2 separate regions of the Homo sapiens genome follow, and region 1 is reported to be linked to region 2. Evidence: microRNA targets listed by miRTarBase, many of them from high-throughput screens and not tested one by one. Region 2 holds a microRNA gene; the other region holds the end of a gene's coding sequence.
What was found. Region 2 holds the annotated microRNA hsa-miR-6825-5p (UGGGGAGGUGUGGAGUCAGCAU, at 1,249-1,270, opposite strand). A microRNA usually pairs through its seed, bases 2 to 8, with sites in the 3' UTR of a target mRNA and lowers its output. Matches are read on the target gene's strand: a 7mer-m8 pairs with bases 2 to 8, a 7mer-A1 pairs with bases 2 to 7 and ends in A, and an 8mer does both.

Region 1 (3,063 bases), not on the chromosome of region 2:
GGCCTGAGCCACCGTGCCCGGCCAGAGAACATTTTTTATAAGGATATTCAGAGGCAATATCCATCAGCTACATTAAAGCAATTTTTTAAAAAAGGTTACATGAGCAGTAACTAAGATCATATTGCTTTTCACTTCCCATTAAGACAATAAACTTAAAACTAGTTCAACTTTGCTTATTTTATTTTTTCATATGCTTCTAATTCCTGGAAGGCTTATGTTATCACTGATTTTATTGTGCCTGACAATATTTCAAGGATATAGGTTACATTTTGCTTTATTATATACACCTAAAGATATAATCACTTTGGGAAACAAACCTAAAAAACTGTTTCATTATAATTTTTAATTTACACATGCATAATATATCAGAAAAATACTGGATACTCTCTTTCAAGAAATTCCAACATACACAACTTGGTGTACATTTACTTAATCCTCTTAGTCATTAATTTAAGATTTACAGACAGGCTTGGTTTCTATACAAGAAACAATCAATGGTATGTAACTACGATAAAGTATTCAGGAGAAATGTGTTTCAGGGAAAGATAATTAACATTTAAGGTTTTTGTCTTTTCTGTTTTTTGTGTAATTTACAAGATCTGAAGGGCTTAACCACAGATGTGAATATAAATAAGGAAAAGTTATCATATGGAAAAATATAATTCTCAAATGCTGATGCCAAAAGTAGTGTTAAAATTTTGTCTTATGAAATTTGAGTCAGGGGAGAAGGGCCAGGGCCAGGGCCCACATATACCCAAATGGTCCAAGCACTAAAAAAAAGTGTGCATTTTCTTTAGATAATTCTACAGCTGGTATTCACTTGCTTGGAAGAAGTACAGTTCTAAGATGATAGCTTCACAAATAACACTGTCATTTATAAGACACAAAAATGTAATAAACCAATCAGACTCTATATAGCATGGCCATATGAATAAAGATAACAAACTGCCTTCTTGAAATGACTACAACTCAATACTAATGAAACTGTCTAGGGTCAATGGTCTTGTAGTTTGAGGTGTTATCTGAGCTCATTGTTTCACAACCAAGAAAATTAAGGAGGCTGGACACAAGGGTGAGGTTGGAGCAAAACTTTTATAAGCAAAAGAAAGAAAGCTCTCCACAGTGGAGAACGGACCCGAGTGAGCTGCTGTTTTTACAGTTGAATCCAAAAGCTTTTATGTGAAACTCCCCTCAACTCTGTAGCTGTTTGTGTAACTTCCCTTATCTATGAAGCTGTGTATGTAACTCTCCTTATCTTTGTATATCTTGGGTAAGCACAAAGTGCAGCTTCTCTTGTTTGTGTAACTGTGGGTCTGTTTTAGGCAAGCCCCTCACCTCCCTGTGCAAGTTCCCACAGAGCCCACCATGTAAATGCCTGAAAATGGGAGGAATTTTTTTCCTGAGAGCCTGCTAATCACACAAAGAACAAAGGCTCTATGCTGGGCCTTGCCTTCTTATCAGTGCAGGTGCAGTTTGGTTTTTCCCCAGGCTGCTCTATTTATGCCTGTAGCTGTGATTTTTTCAGGCTCTTTCTCAGAAGACTAGCCTTAGTGGTCTGCCTAACTGATTTTTCCTTTTCTTCTCCCTCACTATTTCAGCTTATTAAAAGGCAAGCATGTTGGCTTGTTTCTGGGTCTGCTTTGCGGATCTGCAGTTGTATTGTACCTGGCACAGAAGCTACAGCGTATGCTATTTGGGAGAGTGGGGAAGCACTTGCCTAGAAAATCAAGATGGTTGTGTTCCAATTCTGTTTTGGCCCCCAGTTAGTCCCCCTAAGTAAGACATCTTCTCAAGGTCCTTATTTCCTCATTAAAAACAATAAGTGAACTGGACTCGTTCTTTAAGTTCCATTCTAGAACTGTGATTCTAAGGTGACTTGCAGGTTCATCTAACAAGACATAACACTCATAGTCTGTTTATGTTAAGTCACTTTTGAGATATTTATTATTAGAAACCATCCAACATGAAATATGAATTATTAAAATGTTTTTCTCCATGTTTCAAACCAGAAACAGTAATTCAGAATGCAACTAGCATCCTAATTTTTAAAATCAAAATAAGATGACCAGATTAATAAAACTTAGCATTCACAGTATTCAATCTAGAAAAAATATAATTAATAGAATGTTAAAGCCAAAAGAACATTTGAAAGACAGAAAGAGAGAAGGGGAGGAGAGAAAGAGAGAGGGAAAAGAGAAAGCAAGAAAGAGGAGGAGGAGGAGGATTGAGAGATGGAGAGTTTGAGATTGAGACTTCTTATGAAATATATTTTAACGGCAATTACTCATTAACAACTGTGCATTGAGAATATTTGAACATGTTGTTAAAAGCTAGGGGAAAAATGTCAAAACACAGAACCAAAATGATTCTGTATTTCCTAAAGATATACTTTGAGAAACAGAAAAATTATTTCCCATTTCACTATCCCCCAGTACCAAAAGGGAGCATTTTATGATATGCACATCTGTATAATATTTTATAGAAAATAAATGCCAAGGTATTTACAATTTAATTTACTATTTCCTCTTCAATTTGTTTTTTATAGCAGACATATTAATTTCATTTTGAACATGATATGCCAAATATCCTGAGGTTCCAGGAATGAAGTCATGTAGCTCCCCAAGGAATTTCTTCATGGCATCAATTGATATATAACCTACAAAATAAAATTTAAAAAAAGATATATACTTAAAACCCGCTCATACTATTTGCTTTTCAGTGTCTTTGATTTATTAGAGTTAAGACTTCTAAAGAATGTTTTTAGAAAAGAAGTAAAAAGAAGAAATAATACCAGTGAGAAGATTCTCCATGAAACCTTATAATTATCCGGGAACACCTCCTCTTCCCCTCCCACAACTTTCTGCCACCTTTTAAAATATTAAAAGGTGGATTAAAGCTGCTTTGACTATTGAGATTGTGATGTCTAGGTTGGGGCTAGGACATAAAAGAACTTAGATAAAAATAACTGGGAAGTGTTTCTAGCTTAGACGGTAATCACTTAGAACTATCCATCCAACTAGCTACTAACAGTGCAAACAGTTCATCTTCCCTGTTCCAGCAGGC
Region 2 (3,122 bases):
GAAGAATGGACATAAATCATGAGGCTTCAACAGTGCCTGCCCAAGCACTCAGGAGACATTGGCTGTGGCCTCCGCCCCCACTCCTGTGACCCCTGCTGCTCATGTTACCACCCACTCCACTCTGACCTCGTCCCTCGGCCCTCAGGGCAACTCTCCAAGGGGGACACACTACACCCAATTTACAAAAAGGAGCCTGAGGCTCAGGGGAGAAATTGTGTGCAAAGATCCAAGCTGGGGCCATGGACCAGTCTGGCCCTCTCCCAGCTTCACCCAGGTGGGAGGCTGATCCCCTCCCCACAAGACCTGGCAGGTGAGAAAGGGGGGACAAAACACCCACATTCCGACCACATTAAGGTCTGGAGTGGGACCCCCAATCCCATGTCTTCAGCATCCCATCTCACAGACGCTTCTGCAGATGCACATGTGCACAGCAGTGTACTCACCCCCAGAGAATCCAACTGACTTCCCACCCCAAACCTGCTCCCCACTTAAGTCTTCCCCCAACAGGGTACAAGCTTTGTGAGGACAGGATTTGCATCCGCTGTGGGCCTCGCATCTTCTGGCTCTAGCAGTGTCTGGCACACAGTAGGTGCTCAATGAATGCTTGCGAATGAATGAGTTAATATATTATTAAATAAAAACCAGCAATGTAGAACACCGTGCATAGTCACTCTCTCTCTCGTGGGGAGAGTATGTCTGTGTGTACTGTACATACAATGTGCATATATATGTATGTATATGTGGATATGTGCATATATCTACATGTATGTATATGTTGAGCACGTGTTCATGTGTGTATGCATGCATGTGGGTGTGCACGTGCATGTTTGTGTGCATATGCCCGTGTGTATCCGTATGTGCGTGTTTGTGTGTGCATGTGCATGTGTGCATGCTTGTGCATCCGTGTGTGCATGTGCACGTGTCCATGCACATGTGGGTGGGTGTGCGTATATCTGTGTGCATGTGCATGTGTATCTGTATGTGTGTGCCCAAGTGCATGTATGTATGTGCGTGCGCATGCGCACTGTATGCATACACAGCCTCTCAGCTTCAATCCTCACACCCATGCTGGAAGAAGGCGCAGTTCCGCCGGCAGCCACGCGGGGGCGCCGGCGGCCACAGACTCACCCGAAGAAGCCCCGGAGGAAAGCCACGTAGATGAGCGGAGCGAAGAAGCTGAAGTACAGGAAGGTTGTGGCATCTACACAGCTGCGGAGAAGGCGGGTCAGCGCGGGGCCTCCTAGCCCCATGCTGACTCCACACCTCCCCATGCCCCCAGCGGGTGGACACCCTGCCGCCCACTTCCCATGCCCCCACGAGGCAGACACCCTGCGGCCCCCACGCACCAGAGCCCCTCGATGATGTCGAAGCACAGCAGCACACTCCCCAGCCCCTGCAGTAGGTTGAGCAGTGCCAGGATGCCCGCATACACGTAGAAGCTCCTCCGAGCTGGGGGCCGGACAGGGTGGGTCGTGAGGTCCCACCCTGGACAGGCCAGGCTCTGCCTCCAGCACCTACTACCCTCAAGCCTGGTGTGTCCCCCGGGGCCCCTCTAGGCCTCCCTCTCACCCAGGGCTCTCCAGCTCCCAGCCTGGAACTCTACAGCTCCAGCTCCCAGCTACCAGCTCTACAGTGGCCCGGTAGACTCCCTCCCATCCCCGCCTGTCCCAGAGCCGCCGGCCAGCTGCTCACAAGGCAGGGAGATGCGCTCCTTCAGCGGGGTCTTGGGAAGGATGACCACCAGAGAGTAGACCTACAGAGACAGGCAGGGCTGAGAAGGTGCTGGGGGCGCCAGCCCAGACCCACAGCCAGAAACCCAGGAATCCAATCCCTACCTGGCCCTAAGGCCCCAGCCACCCCAGCTGCCCCAGCCTGAACCTCACCAGGAAGAAGAAGCAGGAGCTGACCAGCCAGAACTGGCGGCCCCCATGGCCATAGATATTAAAGTCCTCAGCTGAGAGATGGGCATCAGGGTACAGGATCTCCAGGGTCCCCTGCAGGGGCAAGCAGGAAGGGAGGAAGGGAGAGGATCTCAAGGCTTCTCTCTCCCAGGGGCTTTCCCTGATGCAAAGCCCCCTAAGCTCTCCACCACACCAAGTTCAGCCTCTTGGCCTGACCCTCAACTCACCTGCCCCAGTCTGCTCCCTGGCCATGTCCTGCCCAACTGATTGCAGCATCCAGAGCCGGCCCAGTCTTGGGCTGAGTCACATGGGGAAGGGGGCAGAGATGGACAAGGTGCAGTCCCTGCCCCCAATCTAAGAAAGGGGCCTCTAGATGCATGCTTCTCAGGGGGGTCTGCGGACCTGCACCATCCCTACCTGAACTCCTTATTAAAACGGCAAGTCCTGAGCCTCCCATCCTGGCGCCCTGGCCCACTGGATCCAAATCTCCAGGGGACCCCAGAATGTGCCTCGGTAACAAGCACCCCATGTGATTTCTCAGGTGCAAAGTTTTGAGAACTCTGAAGGTGATAAAGACTGGAAACCTGACCCAGACCCAGAAGCAGTGGGTGCCTGGTGCCCTGACTCCTAGCGTCCCCTGCCCACACTCACCCTCTTACCTGGGTGACAGAGTAGGCCAGGGACAGCACTGTGGTGATGGCCAGCACCCGCTTGATGCTGGACTTACTCTCCAGGTGGCCTGGAAGAAACATGCTGGTCAGCAGGCAGGAGCCAGCCCAGGTGACCACTCCAGAGTCAGCCCACAGCCAGGGAGGGGCAGGGGAGAGCATCGCCAGGGCCCAAGAGCCCAGCGGTACACACACCAAAGGCCAGGCCCAGGATGATCACACTCAGCTCGATGGCCAGCAGGAAGAAGCGGGTGATCTCCCACAGGATCTGCACGCAGAGTGGGCACAGCGTCAGCCTGGACCAGCATCCCCAGCCCACCCCAGGCCAGGCCTCCCTGGCCTCCCTCAGAGGGCCCAGCCGCACCTTATCAGCAACAGTTGCAGCGTTCGAGGTGCTCACCGTCATGGATACCACGGCCCGGGCAATGCCCACCAGCGCCACCACAAACACCTGGTGGGCAAGGGAGTGGTGTGGCAGTCAGGGAACAAGAGCCTCTGCATCGGCAGGGGCAGCAAGCCCACCCCCATATCTACAGGAGCCTTTGATTCCTGA

Region 1: the mRNA of TERB2 is a reported target of hsa-miR-6825-5p. Seed matches in the 3' UTR shown: 7mer-m8 at 2,167-2,173.

Annotation. Positions count from the first base shown.
Region 1 is chr15:44,978,082-44,981,144 of GRCh38, reverse strand. It overlaps TERB2 (telomere repeat binding bouquet formation protein 2), which reads right to left. Exons shown (of 7, transcript NM_152448.3): 7 at 1,916-2,656. The coding sequence ends at 2,517. Among named protein-coding and RNA genes, the nearest start is that of TERB2, 23 kb to the right of the region's middle. RefSeq lists a silencer at 867-1,067.
Region 2 is chr3:127,574,057-127,577,178 of GRCh38, forward strand. It overlaps MIR6825 (microRNA 6825), which reads right to left and starts at 1,275; the gene lies at 1,210-1,275. TPRA1 (transmembrane protein adipocyte associated 1) reads right to left here. Exons shown (of 11, transcript NM_001136053.4): 4 at 2,934-3,020; 5 at 2,765-2,837; 6 at 2,561-2,640; 7 at 1,884-1,994; 8 at 1,693-1,753; 9 at 1,347-1,449; 10 at 1,129-1,209. RefSeq lists enhancers at 821-1,400, 1,401-1,979 and a silencer at 1,254-1,433.